Linked DNA regions of Homo sapiens. The protein of the gene in region 4 purifies or fractionates together with the protein of the main gene of each other region. This does not show direct contact. Each region holds a gene or a part of one and is shown on either strand. Other genes may lie near its edges.

Evidence for each region.
Region 1: the proteins of KCNA2 (region 4) and LCLAT1 purify together in Homo sapiens (co-immunoprecipitation; 2 studies listed by BioGRID and IntAct, with this or other methods). This does not show direct contact.
Region 2: the proteins of KCNA2 (region 4) and KCNAB1 purify together in Homo sapiens (affinity purification with western blotting; 2 studies listed by BioGRID and IntAct, with this or other methods). This does not show direct contact.
Region 3: the proteins of KCNA2 (region 4) and FBXO11 purify together in Homo sapiens (co-immunoprecipitation; 2 studies listed by BioGRID and IntAct, with this or other methods). This does not show direct contact.
Region 5: the proteins of KCNA2 (region 4) and AMFR purify together in Homo sapiens (co-immunoprecipitation; 2 studies listed by BioGRID and IntAct, with this or other methods). This does not show direct contact.
Region 6: the proteins of KCNA2 (region 4) and FADS1 purify together in Homo sapiens (co-immunoprecipitation; 2 studies listed by BioGRID and IntAct, with this or other methods). This does not show direct contact.
Region 7: the proteins of KCNA2 (region 4) and SLC12A9 purify together in Homo sapiens (co-immunoprecipitation; 2 studies listed by BioGRID and IntAct, with this or other methods). This does not show direct contact.

The regions. Positions count from the first base shown.
Region 1 is NC_000002.12:30,639,246-30,641,985, forward strand, and holds part of LCLAT1 (lysocardiolipin acyltransferase 1), read left to right. Parts: intron 1-871; coding exon 872-1,374; 3' UTR 1,375-2,740. UniProt on the Homo sapiens protein: Exhibits acyl-CoA:lysocardiolipin acyltransferase (ALCAT) activity; catalyzes the reacylation of lyso-cardiolipin to cardiolipin (CL), a key step in CL remodeling.
Region 2 is NC_000003.12:156,512,078-156,515,577, forward strand, and holds part of KCNAB1 (voltage-gated potassium channel subunit beta-1), read left to right. Parts: intron 1-2,286; coding exon 2,287-2,372; intron 2,373-3,022; coding exon 3,023-3,143; intron 3,144-3,500. UniProt on the Homo sapiens protein: Regulatory subunit of the voltage-gated potassium (Kv) Shaker channels composed of pore-forming and potassium-conducting alpha subunits and of regulatory beta subunits.
Region 3 is NC_000002.12:47,899,999-47,903,498, forward strand, and holds part of FBXO11 (F-box only protein 11), read right to left. Parts: intron 1-3,500. UniProt on the Homo sapiens protein: Substrate recognition component of a SCF (SKP1-CUL1-F-box protein) E3 ubiquitin-protein ligase complex which mediates the ubiquitination and subsequent proteasomal degradation of target proteins, such as DTL/CDT2, BCL6, SNAI1 and PRDM1/BLIMP1.
Region 4 is NC_000001.11:110,597,783-110,601,282, forward strand, and holds part of KCNA2 (potassium voltage-gated channel subfamily A member 2), read right to left. Parts: 3' UTR 1-3,500. UniProt on the Homo sapiens protein: Voltage-gated potassium channel that mediates transmembrane potassium transport in excitable membranes, primarily in the brain and the central nervous system, but also in the cardiovascular system.
Region 5 is NC_000016.10:56,401,546-56,405,045, forward strand, and holds part of AMFR (E3 ubiquitin-protein ligase AMFR), read right to left. Parts: intron 3,497-3,500; coding exon 3,364-3,496; intron 1,574-3,363; coding exon 1,440-1,573; intron 299-1,439; coding exon 188-298; intron 1-187. UniProt on the Homo sapiens protein: E3 ubiquitin-protein ligase that mediates the polyubiquitination of lysine and cysteine residues on target proteins, such as CD3D, CYP3A4, CFTR, INSIG1, SOAT2/ACAT2 and APOB for proteasomal degradation.
Region 6 is NC_000011.10:61,807,004-61,810,503, forward strand, and holds part of FADS1 (acyl-CoA (8-3)-desaturase), read right to left. Parts: intron 1-3,500.
Region 7 is NC_000007.14:100,855,713-100,859,212, reverse strand, and holds part of SLC12A9 (solute carrier family 12 member 9), read right to left. Parts: coding exon 3,376-3,500; intron 2,346-3,375; coding exon 2,037-2,345; intron 379-2,036; coding exon 271-378; intron 164-270; coding exon 52-163; intron 1-51. UniProt on the Homo sapiens protein: May be an inhibitor of SLC12A1. Seems to correspond to a subunit of a multimeric transport system and thus, additional subunits may be required for its function. May play a role in lysosomal ion flux and osmoregulation.

The DNA.
Region 1 (2,740 bases), on a different chromosome or scaffold from region 4:
ACCTTACGTGTTCCCATAAGGTCTATTTAGGCCTTTATGCATGCCTGCCTCCCCAGTTACGTTGAGAACATCTTGAGTGAGGTTTAGGACCATGTCTTACTTGACTGTCTATCTCCAGCATCTAGCACTCTGGCCTGTTTAAGTGAAAACACTTTACCCCCTAAGTTAAATTCAGGATGACAGGATACAGGATCAGGGTCTTACTTGGAGTTCAAGTTTATTTATCTATTTATTTTTAAAGATGGAGTCTCACTGTATTGTCCAGGCTGAACTCCTGGGCAATAGCGATTCTCTCACCTCATCCTCCCGAGTACCTGGGCTTACAGGTGTGTGCCCCTGTAGCTCAAGTTGATGTTTTTTAAAATAAAAAAGTATATGGTAGTTTTCACATGTTTCTCACCACCTAAGTCTGATTTTAAGTTAAGTTTTTCTTTTCAGTAGCTATCGTGGTAACATTGGGTTAAAGGTGAGAAAGTCTACTTTTATTTGGAGAGATGGCTATATTAATAGGAGGTATCAAAACTGAATTCTATTGGTGTTTAAGGAGCTAGCCCTGTAATGTTTAATTCCCATCTCAAATTTGAGTTAATGTGCTTAGTAGTTTTAGAATGGCAGATTACTGTTTCTGCAAATGAAGATATTTTCTTTCTAAATATTTTGTGGTAATTAGCAAGCAGGAAATAAAACTAAAGATGACTGGTAAATATTGACCCAGGTGTCCAGGAACACCAGTATCTCTAACCCTTGTTTGTTCATTGTGGTTCACACTGTCCTGATTTTTCGGTTTCTGGTGCTGCCCTGCAGTGTGAATCAGCATTATCACCCAAATTGAGCACTGCTTAATCTATGTTTTCATCTTTTCGAAACCCAGGTAAGAACCTTGATGCTGTCCATGATATCACTGTGGCGTATCCTCACAACATTCCTCAATCAGAGAAGCACCTCCTCCAAGGAGACTTTCCCAGGGAAATCCACTTTCACGTCCACCGGTATCCAATAGACACCCTCCCCACATCCAAGGAGGACCTTCAACTCTGGTGCCACAAACGGTGGGAAGAGAAAGAAGAGAGGCTGCGTTCCTTCTATCAAGGGGAGAAGAATTTTTATTTTACCGGACAGAGTGTCATTCCACCTTGCAAGTCTGAACTCAGGGTCCTTGTGGTCAAATTGCTCTCTATACTGTATTGGACCCTGTTCAGCCCTGCAATGTGCCTACTCATATATTTGTACAGTCTTGTTAAGTGGTATTTTATAATCACCATTGTAATCTTTGTGCTGCAAGAGAGAATATTTGGTGGACTGGAGATCATAGAACTTGCATGTTACCGACTTTTACACAAACAGCCACATTTAAATTCAAAGAAAAATGAGTAAGATTATAAGGTTTGCCATGTGAAAACCTAGAGCATATTTTGGAAATGTTCTAAACCTTTCTAAGCTCAGATGCATTTTTGCATGACTATGTCGAATATTTCTTACTGCCATCATTATTTGTTAAAGATATTTTGCACTTAATTTTGTGGGAAAAATATTGCTACAATTTTTTTTAATCTCTGAATGTAATTTCGATACTGTGTACATAGCAGGGAGTGATCGGGGTGAAATAACTTGGGCCAGAATATTATTAAACAATCATCAGGCTTTTAGCGACAAGGAACACACACATTTTTCTTAAAGGCCCAATCCTAACAGACTCCCCGTACCAGAGGCAGATCTGGAACTCGTCAACAACAGCCCGGATCACATGCTGTTACTGGACTGCCCAGGTCACCTCATTGAGGTGAGCGCTGTCCCTCCAGGTACTCAGGCAGGTGGTGCCCAGGCTCCCTCCCTTGGCGTCCTTCTTCCTGCGCCAAACCCATCTCATCCTTAAGATCAGAAAATGGAACCCCCTTTGTCGTGAAACCGATCAAGCATTTTGACAGGAAGCCCTTCATTATTCATAACATTGTATGCTGACCAAGACGTCAGAAGACCACCTGTGCCCTTTTCTCTCGTGGAAGATAAAACCTGGACTCAGGGAGCAACCACAGGCTCTCCACTTTGAAACTTTAGTTTGAATTTTAAAAGATAGGAAGTAATACAGTTTAAGTTCCTTTCTCACACTCAGTATTGCATGCTTAGTGCTGGTTTTCTTACAACATTTTGGCAGGTGTAGCTTTTTCTGTTAAAAATGGTATACATGAAGTCACATACTTTTTTAAAGGAACACTCAGAACATTCTGTCATTCCAGTCAGAAACTGTCTTTTGAAATATTTCTTTACAACCTACCAAAAAAGGAAGGTTGTTTTTTCTACATGTGCTTGGGTATCTAACATCTACCATTAAAACAACAAATGGCTTGCAGACAGGGCAGTAATGGTTTATCCTAAATTACTCAACCCCTTGTAGCCTTGACAAATTTTACCTTAAAACCAAAATGAAACACAAAAATTAATCCTTAATAATGATAGCAAGTGATCTTTCTTTTTAGTTTTAGCCTTCCTTTTTCAATAGTAATATTTAAACCCACTTTTGACCAATTGTTTGCCCAAATATTCTTGTCATTTGGAGTCAGTGGAAAATCCAGCACACCAAGCACCAGTCTTCTTCTGAGGCAAAAGAAAAGTGTTGTCATTTTCACTCTGTTGGAGCTGCACACTTTTTTTTCTTTTTTTTTTTCTTTTTTTTTTTGTCGTGTAAGAAGGATGCTGGTCAGAGCTGCAGAAAATATGAGGCAATTAAAAGTCTTTAGCTGTT
Region 2 (3,500 bases), on a different chromosome or scaffold from region 4:
TTTCATTTCCTGTCCCAGTCCCCTGTGTTATTTTCTTTATAACACTTTACATTTTATAATGACTTACTTGTTTACCCCTCCATCTCTCACTCAACTTGAAACTCCCTGAGTCCAGGAAATTTGTGTCTGTTTTACTCACAGAAGAATCCAGCAACCAGCACAGTGACTGGCAAACATTAAGCTTTTAATACTTGTGTGTTGTATAATTAAATGCATGTGCAGGAAGAGTCACAACTTCCACTCCATCTTCACTGCTTTTGTCAAGGACTCCCACGTGCCCAAGCCACCTGTCAGCATTCTGTGCCTGTCTTACTTGATGGCAGAGACAGAGTTAAGGGAGAGGCCAGGTCCAGTTTATTCTCTGTTAACCTCTTCTGTGTTTATCAGCATGTTTGATTCACCACAGTATCTCCAGCACCCAGAACAGCAGACACCTAGTAGATACTGTTGATTGGCTGAACTCCCAGCTCTGAATGACACAGGATGTGAAGGGAAAGGGAGCTGGTGCAGTGATGGAGACATCTAAAGACAGAATCTATCTGGGGCAGAGATTCATATCATTGTTTTCAACTTCTGGAACTGTTTATCATAGGCACGCATCTCCATTTGTATAATGAAAGAGAAGAAAAGCGGTTCCTTACACTTTTTTAATCATATGTTTTATAAATGGAGAATGAACTTCATAGTTTTAGTTGCTAGGCAATAATTTGATATTCTAGAGTCTTTCTCCAAGAAAAAGAAAACTATTTTGCTTATAAGCCAGCTTTTACCTCTGTTGGACACACAATGGTGAATGAAAGCATTTCCATCTTCCAAAAAAGAAATCAAGGGCAATTAAAAATAGTTTACAGAAGGACGGGAGCAGTGGCTCACGCCTGTAATCCCAGTACTTTGGGAGGCCGAGGTGGGAGGATCACGAGGTCAGGAGATCGAGACCATCCTGGCTAACACGGTGAAACCCTGTCTCTACCAAAAATACAAAAAGTTAGCCGGGTGTGGTGGCGGGCACCTGTAGTCCCAGCTACTCGGGAGGCTGAGGCAGGAGAATGGCATGAACCCGGGAGGCGGAGCCTGCAGGGAGCCGAGATCTTGCCACTGCACTCCAGCCTGGGCCAAAGGGCAAGACTCCATCTCAAAAAAAAAACAACAACAACAAAAAAGTTTACACCAGCCAAACAAGCAAAGAAGCTAAGACCCTGACTCTGGCCATTTCATTCCAAATCCTGTTCCGTATCAATCTAGACAGTGCCTGCTCATGAGAAATAATAATAATAATAAAAAAATACATCTACTGCAACTCTACTTTGAGACAAGGATTTGGTTCTTCTGAAGGGCATTTAACTGACTGGTATTACTGAGAAATAAAAAATCCCAAGGCCTGTGACCCTTTGAAACTGTCGAGTGACCTGGCATCCTGTTAAACACTGACCTGCTTTGTAGAAGAAATCCAACCCTGTCTGTGAATTTTAACTAAGTTAAACTTGAGGGTCTCCATGCTCTCTTGTTCTGCAGCACATCTGGCTGGTGCCAAGAGGATTTGCTCAGCTCCATCCTCTGGGGAAGGGATTCATTTTCCTGTTTAGGAAATGTGATGTCGAGCTCCATGAGGCTGATGAGCACGCTGGGTGGGACCACAAACAGGCCCCAGTGAAATCAATTATGTGGGTGTCTTAGGACAAAATTTGGTTCAAAGTGATCAAGGACAGGGTGTGTCATTGCAAGCTGTGAGCCACGGTGACTTCGGCTGTTTGTTCAGCATTTAATATGTTTATCTTTCTGCTAAACACATTGTTGTTGAGTCACCTCTCTTAGAGACCCATTCTGTGTGAGGTCCAGCTCTGCAAGTCCAATATACAAAGACAAGCCTTTCACCTTCAATGACCTTACATTCTACAAAGTTGAAACAAATGCCTTCTCTTACTTCTCACTTTAGTCGGGAAGGTACTCAGGCTCTTAAAAAGGTAAATCATGTATTCTTTATTAGGCCAGGAATCATCAAGCAATAAAAGTAAAGGAAGAACTTAAAATGGTCATTATATTTTCAATATCATTTAGTGTTGTTGCTGCAAATGGAAAATGGAATGTCAGTTTGCCCAAAGGTACCATCAGCCTTCAAACCATCAATATTTCCTGTCAGACTATAATGTTGTCACCAATATTAGGCTAATTTTATTAATCAAACAAACAATTGCATTAAGCTTCTAAGCTTTGGCTAGAGGAGTAAAAATCGCATAACTTTGAAAAGTAGACAAATTCATGAAATGCTGTCTGTTTGACCTTCCACAGAAATTGTCCGAGCCATGACACATGTGATAAACCAAGGCATGGCGATGTACTGGGGCACCTCGAGATGGAGTGCTATGGAGATCATGGTAATTTAACTTCTATTTTTAAATGGCTATTGAGTACCTTATTATTGCTTTTCAGATGCCATGCATAAATTGCAAGATCTTTTGCAAACTTTTCTCACAATCACTATGGCACTGGAATTCTAGAATCAATTCCATCATTACAGAGATGGATATTGGAGCCGGAGCTCATCCGTTCAGAATACAACAGAGAATACAGTGTTCTTTGGTGGCAAGAGGGTAAAGTGAATTTCACAGCTAATGAGATATATTAACAGAGTATTCTAGTTTTCTTATAAAAAACTGTATTAACTATACTGTTTATACCAAGCTAATTACAGATACTTTTATATGTTAGTCTAAGTCTTATTTCTTTAGGAACTTAAAAATAGTTAAACTACATTTTCTTTATCGTAGTGTACAATTCACACCTTGACTAATTTGCTCTGGACTTAACTCAATCCAAACCCTCCCAAAGAATTAATAAGGGTTTCCTACCTTTCATATTGCTCTTAGTGAAATCGGTGGTGACAAATTTGCTTATTATTTGGCATCCTACATGTTTCTTGGTTTGTACTGATTTCACCAAAGTAAACATTTCTCATGCATACAAATTACAGCGAAGCCTTATTTCTCATCAGTATAAATTTGGTTGTAATCTCATTCCTCCCTAGGAAGCCTATTCTGTAGCAAGACAGTTCAATATGATCCCACCGGTCTGTGAACAAGCTGAGTACCATCTTTTCCAGAGAGAGAAAGTGGAGGTCCAGCTGCCAGAGCTCTACCACAAAATAGGTAATCTTCAAAATAAAAGCTACTGAGTATTTTTAACAAGAGAAAGATCACTGATTCGGGGAAAAAATAAAAACAGTGTTATTGAAATGCTTTCCTAAATGTCCCTAATTAACATAGACATTGTAAGAACCATGCATTCCAGAGATTGTAGCAGAATCAAAATGTAGCAGAATCTGCATTTAGTCTACAGGGTATCACTGATGAAAGCCAAGCAGAGTTGTAAATTGTGACTGGTATTTCAGCTGTACTCAGCAGGTGTTCAAAAAAAAAATGCATACTGAATAAAAGGAACAACCAATGAATAAGTTCATTTTTCATTGGTGCTTGCTCGAGTAAACAATGACTACCTTTCAAAAA
Region 3 (3,500 bases), on a different chromosome or scaffold from region 4:
GATCAGGAACTACTTGTGGTTCCTGCCTTACCTAGTAGGTCTCCAAGCTGGTTGGCCTTCTCTTGGGTTTGTCAGAATTTCCAGTAAAGGGAGAAAAGCAGGATAAGAGCTCTTAGGCCTTATCAGCAGAGCTCTTAGGCCTCATCAGCACAACTTTAACACTAATAGCAACACTACTCTGTTTCTATCCCTCAAGTAAGTTCCAAGCTTTAAGAAAATAGGCTCTTTTTACAGCTCCCATACTTCCTGCCTCCAAAAGGTTGAGTGGCACTGTCTCCTCTCATGGGATACATTTGGAAGGGTTAGCCACCAGATGACAGAGTAGTACCCCACAGTACTTACTTCCTAAAACAGGAAAAATCATGTTTCTTGTGCAGAACTCCTCTATTAAGACTGCACAGGATCCATGAAGTTAAAATATCACATGCTAGAACAATGCCACAGAAAGTATAACTAGCATTCCTGACTAGAACAGCAAGGAGTGTCTCCTGGCTGCTGCATATTATAAATATACAGCTCATTCCTCATCAGTACAGTGTCGAGAAAAAAGTATATACACGTATATATACACACGTATACACACATATATACGTATATACACACGTATACACACGTATATACACACGTATACACACACGTACGTATATACACACGTATACACACACGTACGTATATACACACGTATACACACACGTATACACACACGTGTATATATATACACGTATACACACACGTGTATATATATACACGTATACACACACGTGTATATATATACACGTATACACACACGTGTATATATATACACGTATACACACACGTGTATATATATACACGTATACACACACGTGTATATATATACACGTATACACACACACGTGTATATATATACACGTATATATACACACATATATATGTATATATATACACGTATTTATGGAATTGCAGGGTTTTTAAAAATTGAAATCATTCAGTACGTATAATATTACATAAAATATTGCCGGTGGGGAGATATATATATTTATGTATATATATACACACGTGTGTACATATATACACATATATATGTATATATATACACACGTGTGTACATATATATACATATATATGTATATATGTACACACGTGTGTACATGTATATATATACACACGTGTGTACATATATACATATATATGTATATATATGTGGGTACATATATATGTGTGTCATAGATAAGATTTTTATCCCACAAATATGGGATTAGAGAGACTAGGTTTTTATTCTACAAGATTAGCTCAGAGTAGAAATGAATAGCAAAATCTATTAATGCATTCATTAAATTTCTTGAACTATAAATATCACAATTAGATTTTCAGCACTTCAAAACAGTCCTGTGACTTTTCCAATAACTAGAAAAAAAATACATCTATTTTCAAAAACTCCCATGTCAAGATTATTTCCAGAACCCAAATTCATCTTTTATTAAAAGGTAATAAATGAGAAACTAATAACAGTTATTAGATTCCAGGTAGAAGAATTTAGTAGCTGGAGGCTGATGTACGAAGGGGACTTCTGAATTTTAAACTGTGGCAATATTACCTATTCAAAGTAATTAATTTTATTTTATTTATTATTTATTTTTTGAGATGGAGTCTCATTCTGTCACCCAGGCTGGAGTGCAGTGGTGCAATCTCAGTTCAAAGTAATTAATTTTAACAACTAAAATCTACTGATGAGAACACACAGCACTTCTGTAGACTTGTAAGCTTTCCTCATACTTTGTAATATCTAAAAAAATTACAAAATACATTCCTGCAGTAAAGACAATAAATTCATCAGAACGGGCTGCAAAAGCTAACTCCTTCTAGAATTTTAAAACAAAACAAATATCAAAAATCCAATCCCACACTACTGTTTCATTAAATCATGGACTATATTACCGAATTGTCACTGCGTAAAATACAGTTTTTATTTTTGAGACCGAGTCTTGCACTGTGTCACCTGGGCTGGAGTGCAATGGTGTGATCTCAGCTCACTACAACCTCAGCCTCCCGCGTTCAAGCGATTCTCCTGCCTCAGCCTCCAGAGTAGCTGGGATTACAGGCGTGAGCCGCCATGCCTGGCTCATTTTTGTATTTCTAGTTAAGACGAGGTTTCACTACGTTGGCCAGGCTGGTCTTGAACTCCTGACCTCGTGGTCCACCTGCCTCGACCTCCCAAAGTGCTGGGATTACAGGCGTGAGCCATTGCTCTGGGCCTGTAAAATACAATTCTACTAGTACATGAAATCCCAATCTCAGGAATTTAAGAAATTAAAAAAGCTAATGATTAGGCTAGTATTTAGTCTTAGGATAGCTGATCATTTCAGCTAACGAGTGAACACAATAGTCCATGAAATACCCAGACCAATATTTCCTTACGTGGGGTGTAAGAAATGCTCCCCCATGGAAAGCTTTGAAAAATCCTCAAAGATTTTAATCTATAGGGTCTAGTTTCTTTCTTCTTCAAACACTGGCCATTACAGATAAGACAAAGCGTATATACACACACACATAATGTATGTACAAACATGTATATACACAAATATACCCACATACACACACACATACACATACACACGTGTGTATGTAAATATATTTAAAAGTGGTGTCAAGGAAGTTTTTATACCAATTAACCTGTGGGCAATGAAGCAGCTAAAGACCATTCTGACAGACTTTTTGCCTGAAAACATATTATACTGTAACTATTTTATTACCACTAAAGAACCTGAAATGCATCTTTATATAAAACAAATGATTTTATATACAGTCTGAACTAGTTTGTCTCAAAACAGCGAGTCTCACTTTGATTCCCTATCTGGAAAGTTGTCTGATCCACTATTAAGTAACTCTATCCAAGATCCTAATGCAAATGTTACATATCCATTAAGAGTTAGTAAAAGGTTAAAAAAAAAAAAACAAAAACCACACATACATTCTTAGCTTTAGTTCTTTAATTATCCTGTAATAATTAAACCCAGCATATTCCTAAACTAGCAACAACAAAATCCCTTTCTTTCCAAACTAGAAAGTGACACTTTGCGTGCTCCATAAAACTTTCGAAATAGAGTATTCTTAGTTAACTTCTGATCATTATATGAATCGGACATTTAAAAAAACGTAATTAAAATGTCAATTTTTCAAAGAATAACATATTTTTCCATATGGCTGGCAACATCTTTATTATTTTAGTTAACGAATTCATCTTAATGTTTTATTCATTTTAAGGCCATTTATGTGCCCTCTTTAAGACTCACACTATTTTCCCTAAAGTTCTTTTCCTCTCTGCTCTGTGCCAACACAGAATCTCCAAAACAGTTTGTACTAGCTGCAGAGAAGCAACAATTCTACAGTAAATTTCATTTACCATTTGGTTGGGTACATACTGAAATTTGGATTCATGAATATTGACAGTTTATAGACATCAATGAGAAGAAAATTGACACTGGCATGTGACTGCCAACAACCAAGTCACCTTACCTCAC
Region 4 (3,500 bases):
AGTCACTATTTATTTTATTGCACTTTTCCTCTTTAAAAATATTCAAACACAAACTATGAGAGATGAAGCTGAGATTTGGTGGGAAGGGAAGCAGAAAAAAAGGAAAAGTAAACTAGGTTAGTTTGAGGAAGAGAACCTTCCTGCATGTAGGGGAGCCCCTACCTCCATCTGTCCCTGCTGGTTGCTTTGATAGGGGAACAGGGTTGGACTCAACAAGGGCTAAGTCTGAAGATATAGATGATGGTCACAATAGCTACTGAGAGAGCTCCCAGCATCCCCCTCTCTGCGCGTTGGCTCAGGTGACTGATGATGTTAATGAGGTTAAGGTCATGAGTTCAAACCCGGCAATGGATACCTTGCCAAGGCTAGGGGAACCTCCATTGTGCAACCAAGGAGCACCATGGATATTATAGCCCTCGCAGATGAGGCGGCCATCACCCACATACAAGTTATTATGACAATGGGCCCCAGGAAAGCTCTGGGGAGCAGAGCTCAGCACCATCATCCCCTCTCTTGAGTAAACAAGTCAAAGCACTGTGCTCCCCTGCCTGACATAGGGGTAGTGGTGCCACCTTCATATGCAATTTGCACACTGTTCTATAGTTTCCTTAGGGGGGAGTCAGCCTCTGTGACTCTACTACTGTGGGCAGTGCTGAATCCCCAGCCTGAGGAGCTTCAGAGGGTGCTGTCCTCTCTCCACATGGGTTGATACTGATAGAGTCCTCACTATAATATAGTGAGAGATCCAGGAAGAATAGGTAGAACAAGCTAGTCCTGGGCCCTCCCAACACGGAGCAGCAACATGAACACCCAGGCTGGGGTCTCAGGCCATCATAGCTTCCATGGGAGCCCTTTCCATACTAGGCTAACGCAATCTAGAGGCACACTCCCGTGGGGCCCCTTTTAAAAGGCTAACCTCATGGTGACATGCCAACACTAGCCTCAGAAACACAGGTGAGAGGGACAGAGGCAAGCAGAGAAGAAGGAAGAGAGCATGTCAAATATTACTGAAGTTTCAGAAAGCACAGAGCCTTAATTATTTTCTTAATTAAATGTTGGCTCCTAAAAAGTTTACTCTGAAATTTGACCCACTCAGCCACTCTCTCTTCCTGACAATCTCTCCACCTTTCCTGGGCCTATTCCTTTTCGGTCTCCTGAAAACTCCAAGTTTCTTGAAAATGAATCCACAGAGGCACTTGATGAAGCCAACAGGAATGGTACCTTGACCTGGAAACACAAGTTTCCAGCAAAGCACACGTTTTGGACCCATATGTCCACTCCCTACTGTTGTTACCTTTTCTGTAGAGACTGGGAGCTGCGACCATCACTGGAAGGGAGAGTGAGACACAACGGGATGGCTGCAGGAGCAGAAATCAGGAGTGAGGCCTGATCCAAAGCCTGACTGCAACTCTTTACTTCCGATGTAGGTGAAGCCTTTGCTAAAATGCACTCAGCTCTCAGCTAGTCCTACTTAGGGGAAGAACCAGCTCCAAGAGTAATCCAAAATGGTGGGTAATCTTAGAAAGTATTTAAATATGGCCTTAGAATATAGGATAAAGTCAGGCCCTCTAAAAAGTGTTAGCTTGCTTAGCCTTAGATGTATGTTCTTAATCACTTTTTACTTAAGCTGAACTGGGTTGCATAGCAATTGGATGGGAGGCAGGGCATCCAGGGGAGCCCAACAAGAGGAAAAGGAAGAGCGTGCCCGGGATTGAACACACCCAGAGGGGAATCAGGAGTTGGCCCCTTTGGGCTTATGCACAAGAGCAAGTGAAATGCCACAAGCAAGTAAAGGTGGCTCATTTTAAGAGACAGGTCTCTATAGGGTCTCAACTTCCTGACCGTGCCCCCAACAAAGCTGCAAAGGATGGAAGGGCAATAAAATCTGTGGGCTTAGAGAATGTTGGGGACATCTTTACCCTGGTCCTGGGCTCAAGATCCTGCAGTTTCTTGAGCCATTACTGCTTTTAAGAGAATAGGGCTGAATCTGGAGATCCCAGGTGCTGGGAGAAGGGGAGCCTGGGCTATTGGGTTGTCTGTGCGGATTTGCTGGAAGGAAGGAAGGGTCATGGCAAGGAGGCCTATATTAGGCTACCAGCTGTCCCAGGTACTTTCACACCCTGCACCCAGGTTTCTGGTGGGAGGAAGGTGAATTGGTAGAGACCCCATGCAATTCCTGGTCTTAGTCAGATATCTGCTTGATGTGGTGGCCCATCCTCCTGCTTGAAACCTAGGAGTTACTTCTCAGGAGTGAAATCTGGTAGTGAGAGAAAAGAATAGAGAAAGAGATTCCTTGAAAGATCCTGGGGGATATAGACACAGGCCAGGCAAAGGTGATTACATCTGATCTTTTGTTTGTGCCTGTTAATTCATAGCTCTGGGGGCAGGGCAATGGGTCTGAGTATATGTCTGCATTTCATGTGTATTGTGCGATATTTTTGGGCATGTGTGCTATGTATCTTGTATGCCTATTATAAGTTAATGCATCGTGTGTATATACTGAGTTTGTGTGTATTTTATGTGTAGAAACAATGGTAAAGTAGCCTTTGTGTATCTTATATGCATATGCATTTTGTCCATGTAGTTTTTTATGTATTTTGCATCTGAGTTTCAGGTTGTATATTTGTATGTGGTGTATGTTTGTCTTTTGTGTATGTTCTGTGTAAATTCTATATCTGTGCAGAGTGTGCATTTTATATACAATTATAACCATATATCTTCTGTGTTTGCTTTTATGTTAACCTGGTCTGTCTGTATTTTGCACGTTACATGTTTTATGTTTGTGTGTGACAACAGTGTACCTATTTTGTGGTGAATGTGCATGACTGTATGTGAACATTTTAGAGTCCTGGGCCAAGGACACTGTGATAAGATATCTATCCCTGACCTAGGCCTCAGATATGGGTTGCTTTACCTTCTATTTTCCAAAGATCTGTGTCCCTCCCACCCCATGCCTTGGAAATTCAGCACCACCTCCCATGAAGGAGAGGAAGAGAAGCACAGAGGCTTTGTGCTGGGCATGGGATGCCCTGCAGATACCTGGGGATGTGGGTGACCAGGCACTAATGAGCACCCTGGGCCTAGCACCCTGAGCTGGTGCCCCATGCCCCAAGACAACTGTAGGTGCTAACTAGGCAGCAGTGAGGCCTGGGCTGGAGCCACCCCTGCATAGCCCGACCCCTGCAATTCACTGTTTGGGAAAATTAAGCTACTCCGTCAAAAGGCAAAGACGCCCAGTCTGGTGAGTTAAAAGCCCCCTACCTGAAGCCATTTCAGGGTCAACCTACTGTCTACCTTTAGGCTGTGCAGTGCTCATTTGCACTCTACTTCTTCTGGGGGGTGGGAAATGATTCTTTACCCATCCTTTGGTTCTTTTTAAAAAGCAGCTCTGGTTGCCAGTTTAATGGGGAGAGAGTTTGGGTCTGGAGATCAAAATGATGCCTTTGGATCATCTAGGGACTCCATCACTTAGTCCCGGACTTCAGACATTTCCACATAGA
Region 5 (3,500 bases), on a different chromosome or scaffold from region 4:
GGGAAGAGGCTAAGGAACAAAGAAGGATACCCAAGAGCTTCCCAGAACACTCAGTGCCAGCAGCAAGGCCAGGCTGAGGTAATGTCCCCACTCCTCCACTAGGATGAGTCTCGAGCCTGGGTACACAAAGCACACACACGCCCTGGACAGAACACCTGTCCCACATGGCCCTTCACAAAGCTCCTACTTGTGGAAAAGATGTCCACAGGGCAGTTTCCGCGCAGCCTGCATGGAGTCCCAACAGATGGCACAGTCGTCATTGTTGACAGCCAGCTCCTCTGGAGTTGCAACTGCAAACCTGTGGAAACAAAACAAGCCCAGCAGGAACCTCAGTCAGTTCCACACGCACACTAAACACCACTTGATAGACTGCGCCTGTATCACAACACAGTTACAGAGAAAGCATGTTCAGCAAAACATTCTTGATAATCAAAAATATAATTTACCTTCAAAGCCCTTTCAAAAGTGAGTAACTTATGCACAGGAACTTTGTCTAAATAATGGTTGCTAGGCCGAGCGCGGTGGCTTATACCTGTAATCCCAGCACTTTCGGAGGCCGAGGTAGGGGGATCATGAGGTCAGGAGTTCAAGACCAGCCTAACCAACATGGTGAAACCCCGTCTCTACTAAAAATGCAAAAATTAGCCGGGCGTGGTGACAGGCGCCTGCAATCCCAGCTACTCAGGAGGCTGAGGCAGGAGACTTACTTCAACCTGGGAGGCGGAGGTTGCAGTGAGCTGAGATTGTGCCACTGCACTCCAGCCTGGGTGAGTGAGACTCCATCTCCAAAATAATAATAATAATAATAATAATGGCTGCTGTTAGTGAAGACCTCGGAGACCATATCCGGACAAATCAGAGGAGTAAGGCCCCCAGAGATCCAATCTGTGTCCCTGGCCACAAAGAAGAGATCCAAGCTGTCCCCCTGGGTGCAAAGAGGATACCCATTAATCTTGCACCTCCAGGCGTGGCTTAGCCCCAGCTTGGCAAAAAAGTGCCTCCTTCAATGAGGTTAAGTATGTGTGTGTAAACATGCATGTGCAAAGAACTGAGACCCACTTTCAGGAAATGAACAGGGTAGAAGCCCAATGAAGTGTCTATTTGATAATAATGACAATAAAATCATGACAAATAAGAGCCTAATACTGAGCACTATCTGCCCAGTACCATTCTAAGTACATGAATTATCTCACCAAATTCTCCCAATAGTTCAGGCAGAAGGTTCTGTTTTCATCCCTAATTTAGAGGTGAAGTAAATTGCCCCAAATCACACAGCACCTAAGTGGGGATTCACACCCGGGCAGTCTGACTCCAGAGCCTTTCCTCTCCACCACTCTATTAGCAGTTTACAAACATACATTCTGACATACTCTGGGATCTGCTGTTATTAAAAAACTAAAATGAGTAAACTTAGGCAACATCAACTTGTGCTTCCTTACCTGGCCTCCATGTTTCCAACCACACGTAGATAGTTCTTGTGCCGACGAATTCGACGTTGCACCTCATGAAACAGGTAACGCAGCTGCATAAAGATGACCAGGCTGGCCATGGATAACCAGATGTTGCCAAATAACTTAGAGAGAAAGAGAATAAAACACACGGTAAAAGCGAACGTGAACTTGCTAGTGATGAAGGCGCAGTATGCAGCGGAAGCTCTTCACTGTTGGTGATGGTGAACTGCAATGTCTTTCAGAAAGGAAATACACAGATTTATCTCATTACTCTAAACAATGCACATCCTCGTCAGCCTAGGTGCTCCAATGCCAGTCATCTTTCCTGAGAAACTCATCAGAAATGGAAAAGCTTTATGCAAAAAGATGTCTATCCATGCAATTATAAAACAGAAAATATGAAAATGAACAAAATGCCCAGAAGAACAGTTAGGTTGTAAACTCATGTAATGTAAAATTATATAGTCATTAATTTCACTTATTATACTATATAACTACATATTACTATTATATTTGTATATATAACAGTTCTGAAGGTCAATTATGGGAAGATAGTACTAGATAAATGAAAAAAGCAAGATATAACTATCTTTATCAAACTAATACATGATAAAAAATATGTAAAATGTGAAATAGCAAACAACCAAATATAATCTAAATAACCCATTGTGGGATGCGGTTTATTAAATCATGGTACAGCTATCTGATGATATTTTTATCCTGAAAGTATTAAAATGGCTTAGAAGAACTGATGTTAGCACAGGAAAATGTTCATAATACATTAGTTTTTAAAGAACAGAACTATATGTCTAAAATATGATCTCAATTTATGAATGTATGTACTCAAATACATAAAAAGAATCAGTTAAATACAAAATACATAAAAATACAAAATACATAAATACAAAAAATACATAAAAAGAAGCAGTTAAATACAAAAAATACAAGCATGAGGAAAAAAAATTTAAAAAAAGAAGATAAAAAATCTTAACAGTTATCTTTGGCCATTTGTTTGTCCCCTTTTTGAGGGGGGAGGGAGGCTTTTTTTTTTTTTTTGGGACGGAGTGTCACCCTGTCGCCCAGGATAGAGTACAGTGGCGCGATCTCAGCTCACTGCAACCTCCATTTCCCAGGTTCAAGCAATTCTCTGCCTCAGCCTCCCCAGTAGCTGGGATTACAGGCATGAGCCACCGCGTCCAGCCGAGGCTCTTTTTTAAAAAAAAGAATTACATACTTTCTTTAAAAAGTATGTTTTCAAAGTTTCTTTCAAAAAGTAGACTTAGAAATGTGCCACGTCTAGCCCAATAATTTTAAAATGCTACTTGCTAGGCTTATAATTTAAATAAATTGCCCACCAACTATTTTAATTCTCACCATTATTAGATCACTGAAGGGCCAACCAATGAAGCAGATCTACGACACCGTAACGTCTAACATACCAAAGTAAAATGTAAACAATGATGGTAGTAGGAATGTAGGAATTAAGTGTAAAGACTTTTTTTAATTACAAAGATGGAAAATGTATAAATCTGTGAAGTAGCTAACACTGCAGGAATTCCCATTACCACCTACAAAGTACCTGCTAAATATTTAAAGCCATAGAAACTATGGGGAAAGGCAGCTCCTTAATTTCATGCTAAAAGAATAATCTATTGACTTGGTCAGCAGAGTTAACTAAGTCTCCCAGGACAGCAAACACCTCCTGAGTTAGGCACCAGCCAAAGCAGTTCCATGGCACTGCCTTACACCCAGTGGCAAAAAGAGGGAGGGTTTGCAGCCACATTCATTTTTAGTCTTTAAGTAGTCCATCCACATCTTATTTCTAAAGTTTCATTTTTTAATGAAGAAACCATTACTGTTCCTGATTCTGAAAGGCTTGCCCTCTGTTAGAGCTCCTTCTGAGGAAACTTACCAACATGTGAATATGGTGCATGAGGTCCAGGGACAGGAGAGTGAGCTCCATGACAAAGTCTGTGTAATAGACATACGTCCCCTTTCCTTCCCACGTCCCTTCGTGGTTGAGGTCCCAGAGGTGAATTACGTATCTGT
Region 6 (3,500 bases), on a different chromosome or scaffold from region 4:
GTGTTCATTCTCTTTGTCATGAGGTTTCCAGGCCCCACTGCCCTCTCCCCTTTCTCCCATCGTACTTTTTTGTTTATTTTTTAGACGGAGTCTCGCTCTTGTTGCCCAGGCTGGAGTGCAATGGCACGATCTTGGCTTACCACAACTTCTGCCTCCCTGGGTTCAAGCGATTCTCCTGCCTCAGCCTCCCAAGTAGCTAGGATTACAGGCATGTGCCTCCACGCCCAGCTAATTTTGTATTTTTAGTAGAGATGGGGTTTCTCCATGTTGTTCAGGCTGGTCTTGAACTCCCAACCTCAGGTGATCCACCCACCTCAGCCTCCCAGAGTGCTGGGATTACAGGTGTGAGGCAGTGCGCCCGGCCGCCATCGTACTTTTTCACACCAGAATCTCCATGGACAACCATATCTGCCCCTATACAGGTTAAGTATTCCCTCTATATCCAGCCCCTAATTCTCCCCATCAAAATCTTTTGGTCTCTTGACTTAAACATGAGCTTTATCAAATCTCCTGAAGGCTAATTCGAGTTTGGCAAATATTTCTGGAAAAGACACCAAGAACAATTTGGCAATCTGAAGGTTCCAGCAGTTTTCCCCAGTAGGTGGTGGTTATTTTTTATAAGCCGAGCTGCTGAAGAGACAGGCTGGGGCCACCATGTCAACCAGCCAGTCTAGAACCCCTGATGTGGGCTCACAAACAAGACAGCAAAGTTCTGCTGTCTCACTCCATGACTATGTCTGCATCGCACTCCAATTAGTTCAGGTAACCAGACAACCACAAGGGCACAAGAGGAGCACTCAACCCCTGAGCAGAGCTCTAGCTCACCCTTCCATGTGTCCACAGTTCATTTATTGAGAGTTTATTCTGTACAAGACACTTCAGCTAGATGAAACATCCTTTCTACATTAACAGATTCAAGTTCTTCAGCACCTACTGTGTGCCGGGCTATGTTCTAGATGCTTAGGATACAGAGGTGAACAATACAGACTTCCCACCCTCATGGAGCTTATAACCTTAGGGGATGAAGCTGGTGATAAATTTGTAAACAGAGACCGGGTGCAGTGGCTCATGCCTGTAATCCCAGCACTTTGGGAGGCTGAGGTAGGCGGACTGCATGAGCCCAGGAGTTTGAGACCAACCTGGGCAACATGGTGAAACCACGTCCCTACTAAAAGCACAAAAATTAGCCAGGCTTGGTGGTACGCACCTGTAGTCCCAGCTACTCAGGAGGCTGAGGCAGGAGAATCTCTTGAACTCGGGAGGCGGAGGTTGTAGTGAGCTGAGACCGCACCATTGCACTTCAGCCTGGGTGACAGAGCGAGACTCTGTCTCAAAAAAAAAAAAAAAGATCTGGGACCCAAAATAGCCTTTCTTCTCCCCGGCCAGCTATGAGGCTGAGGATGGGCTGCCTGTTAGTGAATGCCTGGGCAATAGGCTGCTTGGTTCCATCCCTCTGGGGATGTTGATGCCTGTGCTGACCCCATGACATCCACGTCAGTGCCTCCCAAAATTTTTGGAGGACAAGGAGGGGCAGGGGACACTGCCCTAAATAGAACCCTTCTGACCACCAAGGGTCTAAACATAATGGGACAAGTTATAGGGATCATAAAGGCATTTGCCATTCAAGGAGGAAGCAATGGATGGGGCTCCTTTCCATAACAGTTCCACAATAGGAAGCCCCCAAGCAAGGGCGCCCCTTTTTCAATTTTTTCCTCAGTTAATGTTGCTCGAGATGGGGTGATTCTCACCACCACATCCAGGTCCTCAGCAAGCGTTGCTTACACTGCCTCCAAAACATATCCCAAATCCATTGGCTTCACCTGCTCCTCCGTGGTCTGGTCTGGACTCGCTCCAGCCGCCTCACTGAGGTTATATCTGTGATTATACCTACCCTCTATAATTCATCCTCTCCACCTCCAGCCAGAGCAAGCCTTTTAAAGTGCAAAGCAGATTGCTGTACCCACCAGAAACCCTCCTGTGACTCCCCATTGCTATTGGAATAAAACCCAAACTTCTTACCACACCCTTACCATGGCTTTCTAAGGCCCTACATGATCTGGCCCCTCCCTAGTTTTCTGGTCTTCTCATTCTCTCATTGCTTACTGTCCCTGAACATCCGGGAGCCTCTGTACTTGACTGTTCTCTCTGTTCCAAATGTTCCTTCCCTGAATTTTTGCAGTGTTGGCCCTTTTCATCATTCAGGTCTCAGTTCAGATGTCGGCACCCGAAGGAGGCCATATCTGATCATGACTACCTCTCAGTTTCTGTCATATTTTACTGTTTTTAATCTGTAAGTTACGTTGAACTCTGTTTACAATTTTTTTTTGGTTTTAATCTTTTTAAAAAATTATTATTTTTACACACAGGGTTGCGCTGTTACCCAGGCTGGAGTGCAGTGGCGTGATCATACTCACTGCAGCCTTCACCTCCTGGGCTCAAGCGATGCTCCCACCTCAGCCTCCCAAGTAGCTGGGACCACAGGCACATGCCAACTGCGTCCCTTCATTCTCTGTTTTTGATGTCTGCTGATAGGAATTTCCTGAAAACCCAAGTACCAAGAAGCAATAAAGGTAGTGGTGTGAGACTGTTCCCTTCCACTTAACCTGCCCATGTCTTTTTTTTAAACCCTCTGTAGTGACAGTAGAAATGCACAAGCCCCATGCCACTGCCCAGCAAATAACCACACTGCCCTTGAAGCAGCCATGGGAGTCAGACGGGGGACAGGGCTGCTTCGTCATCTGCATAGTACTGACCATAATGGTATCGGACATGTAACAAACCCAAGTCCATGCTCATGATGGGAAAATAAGAACATTATGGACAGGTGGGGCATGAGCCTCAAGCTATGAGCTCCTCATGCCAGGCCAACCAGTGCTGCCAAAGCCCTTTCAAAGTTCTCATGGCCAGGGGCGAGAGGAACGCCAGGCTACCTTGAACTCATGCCTAGAACTGAAATGTGTTTTAACGACAATTTAATTCCTCGCAAGCTGAAATGTCACAAAGTGGAGGAGGTGGACCTGGAAGAACTCTGCAGCCTACAGCCTTGGGACAAAGGGCTTTAAATGAACTTTTCAAAGAATTCTGCTGGCCTTTTAGAACCTTCCATTGCCTAATGCTCACTAAAAGCTCACCAGATCTCCACCCCCAGGCATTATTCCTTCAGCAGCTACATTATTTCTGCTTACAACTTCAGACGACATCTCAAACCCAACGCTGACCACCCAGGAAATCAGGCTGGGGATCAGCAGGGTGGGAAGAAGTACTCAGTGAATGAATGTTCCAGATATTGGACATGAAAGAAGAGTAAGACAGTCCAGCCCTGGACAGAGAAGACTGTGACAAGAAGGATACCTAAGTGTGGGAGAGAAATACAAAGTGCAAGGGGAATACTTGCCTGGGGCAAGAGTGTCAAAAAAGCACCTCCAGGAGGTGCCATCAGCACCTTCAAGGATAGGCTATCTCATCATTTGGATCCTTCTGGTCATCCGCTGGATCCTTTG
Region 7 (3,500 bases), on a different chromosome or scaffold from region 4:
CCAGGTGCACCAATCTTGTTCGACACTCCACCCCCATCCCTCCCCAGACACCTGTCACAAGTGAAGCTGGAGAGAAAGAAAAGCAGGACATAGACGAAGAAGGTGTAGGCGACGGCGACGATCGTGCCCAGAGGGATCGCCCGGCTGGGGTCCTTCAGCTCCCCTGGAGAGGGGGAGCAGAGGGAGTGAGGTCAGCCCTCCAGCCATCCCCCTGGGTCCCTCACGGTGGCAGCCCCAAACCCCCAGGAGGCAGCAGGCAGGGACTCTCACCTGACATGTTGGCCCCAGCCATGATGCCTGTACAGCCGTTAAAGAGGACAGCAAAGACGCTGGCAAAATTCATCACGGCTCCCGTGGTGTAGTCCTCAGCATAGCCAGCTAGGAGGATCCTCCCAGGGAGGAGAGTGCATCAGCATCCGTCTCAGGGATCCAGGCCTCTTAGCCACCCTCTCCACACATTCCCACGGTCCTCTTGCCTCCCCTGCACTGCCCTCACTAAGACCCCAGCCTGTTCCTGCACTGGCCCTGGGTCAGCCAGACACATTGCCACGTCCCCCCAGTGCTCCGATATTCCTCCCTCCAGACCCTAATCCACGCTCTTTTATTTATTTATTTATTTTTTAGAGACAGGGTCTGGCTCTGTCATCCAGGCTGGAGTGCAGTGGCACCATCGTAGCTCACTGCAACCTCTACCTCCTGGGCTAGAGCGATCCTCCTGCCTCAGTCTGCCAAGTAGCTGGGACTACAGGTGTGCACCACCATGCCCATCTAACTTTTTAATTTTATTTATTTATTTATTTTGAGATGGAGTCTCGCTGTGTCACCCAGGCGAGAGTGCAGTGGTGCGATCTCGGCTCACTGCAACTTCTGCCTCCCAGGTTCAAGCAATTCCCCTGTCTCAGCCTCTCAGGTAGCTGGGATTACAGGTGCCCGCCACCACGCCTGGCTAATTTTTGTATTTTTAGTAGAGATGGGGTTTCACCATGTTGGCCAGGCTGATCTCGAACTCCTGGACTCAGGTGATCCACCCGCCTCGACCTCCGAAAGTCCTGGGATTACAGGCGGGAGCCACCGCACCCAGCCTATTTATTTTTTTGAGACGGAGTCTCGTTCTGAAGCCCAGGCTGGAGGGCAGTGGTGGCGATCTTAGCTCACTGCAGCCTCTGCCTCCCGGGTTCAAGAGATTCTCATGCCTCAGCCTCCTGAGTAGCTGGGACTACAGGTGCGCACCACCACCCCTGGCTAATTTTTGTATTTTTATTTTATGGTGTTTTTTTTGTTTGTTTGTTTTTTGGAGAGGGAACCTCACTGTCTCCCAGGCTGGAGTGCAATGGTGCAATCTCGGCTCACTGAATGGCACAATCTCGGCTCCTCCTCCCGGGTTCAATCAGTTCTCCCTCAGCTTCCCGAGTGTCTGGCACTACAGGTGCAAGCCAGCGTGCCCAGCTAATTTTCGTGTTTTTAGTAGAGACGGGGAGAGGGTTTCACCATGTTGGCCAGACTGGTCTCAAACTCCTGACCTCAGGTGATCCTCCTGCCTCGGCCTCCCAGAATGCTGGGATTACAGGCGTGAGCCACCGCACCTGGTCTCAAGCTCTTTCCTGAGATGCCTTCCCTCTCTGCTCCCAGCTCCTGGCTGAATCCCCCACCTGTCTATCTCAGGCCACCTCCAGCTCCCCGGCTCCTGCCCTCCCCAGCCCATAGTCAGGCCTCCCTTCTCTCCACTCCTGGGTGATCCTGATCTGTTTAAGTCATGCTGGGCCATTCTGTGCTATTTAACTGATTCCTGAATGCATGTCTCTCCTCAGCTAGAACACAAGTTCCTCTAAAGCAGGGACTGTTTTGTGGGCTTCCTCCTGCCCTGCCGGCCAAGCACACGCTAGACAGGCTTGAATTAAATTGCACTGCTCTGCAGTCCAGACCTCCTGCCCTCCATTCCCTCTGACACCTGTGCTCATCCAGAGGTTTTACGGGCCCGGCCCGACGTCTGCCCACCCCTCACCCCGAGATCCCTGCCACGGCAGCACCCAGCTCACCGCCCAAGTTGTCCTTCAGGGTACTGCTGTTGAAGCCGGTGAAGTGGCCAAACCGGGGCGGCAGGGAGGAGCCATTGGGGCCAGGCCTAGGAGTCAAGCGGATGTCCCTCGGCCCCACAGCCACAAAACTGATGAGCACAGAGGCCAGGGAGCCAGAGACCAGCAGGAATGTGAGGAATGAGGCCCGGGCATAGAGGCCGGCTCCCAGGGTGCAGACCCCACCCACAAGGCCCAGCAGCAGGGAGCCATACAGCAGGTTCCAGCCGTAGCCCTGGGGCAGGACCCGGAGCCCACTGGGCCCTGTGGCATCTGGAGAGAGGTAGGGACAGAGTTAGAAGGCCCGATCCTAAGGCACCCCACCAGCCGGGCATGGTGGGCGGCTCACATCTATAATTCCAGCACTTTGGGAGGCCGAGGTGGGAGGATTGCTTGAGTCCAGGAGTTTAAAACTAACCTGGGCAACATTGTGAAACCCCAGCTCCACAAAAACTGCAAAATTAGCCAGGTGTGGGGAGGCATGCCTGTAGTCCAGCTACTGGGAGGCTGAGGTGGGAGAATCGCATGAGCCCGGGAGGCAGAAGTTGCATTGAGCCGAGATGGTACCACTGCACTCCAGCCTTGGTGACAGAGTGAGACCTTCTCTCAAGAAAAAAAAAAAAAAGAAGAAGGGGCAGGGCGCCGGGGCTCACGCCTGTAATCCCAACACTTTGGGAAGCTGAGGCAGGTGGATCACTTGAGGTCAGGAGTTCAAGACCAGCCTGGCCAACATGGTGAAACCCCGTCTCTACTAAAAATACAAACATTAGCCAGGCGTGGTGGTGAGTGCCTGTAATCCCAGCTACTCAAGAGGCTAAGGCAGGAGAATTGCTTGAACCCGGGAGGCAAAGGTTGCAGTGAGCGGAGATCACACCACTGTACTCCAGCCTGGGCAACAAAGCAAGACTCCATCTCAAAATAAATAAATAAATAAGAAGGGACCCAGCCCCAACTGTGACCCAAAGCAAGACAAGCCCTCCTCTGCCCACCTGCTATCAGAGAGTCCACCTTCCCCACTTCCCTCTTAGCTCCATCCTAGCATCTTAGCTCTCCCTGGTGGTCTCTGTCAGTTTTAAGAATCTTAGCCTGGTCTCTCCGATTAGATGGTTAGCTCCCTGCAGGCAAGGACAATCTCAGGGATGTCCATATCTCCTGCACGATGCTGGCCACACAGCAGAAGCTCCAGAAAGCCAAGGTAATGGCTCAGTCTGCCCCTCTGCTGGAGAGGACCTTCTCCCTCATGATCCCACACTCCCAGACCCTGTAAACCCGCAGCACTGCCCAGATCGGACAGAGCACAGACCGGCCCCGAAGACATCAAGCACAGACTCCACCAGCCCCAGGAGGGAGACGGCACAGCCACAGACGTTAGCCAGGTAGAACATGAGCCCAATGCTGCCCCCGACCTCGGGCCCCAGTGTGCGGCTG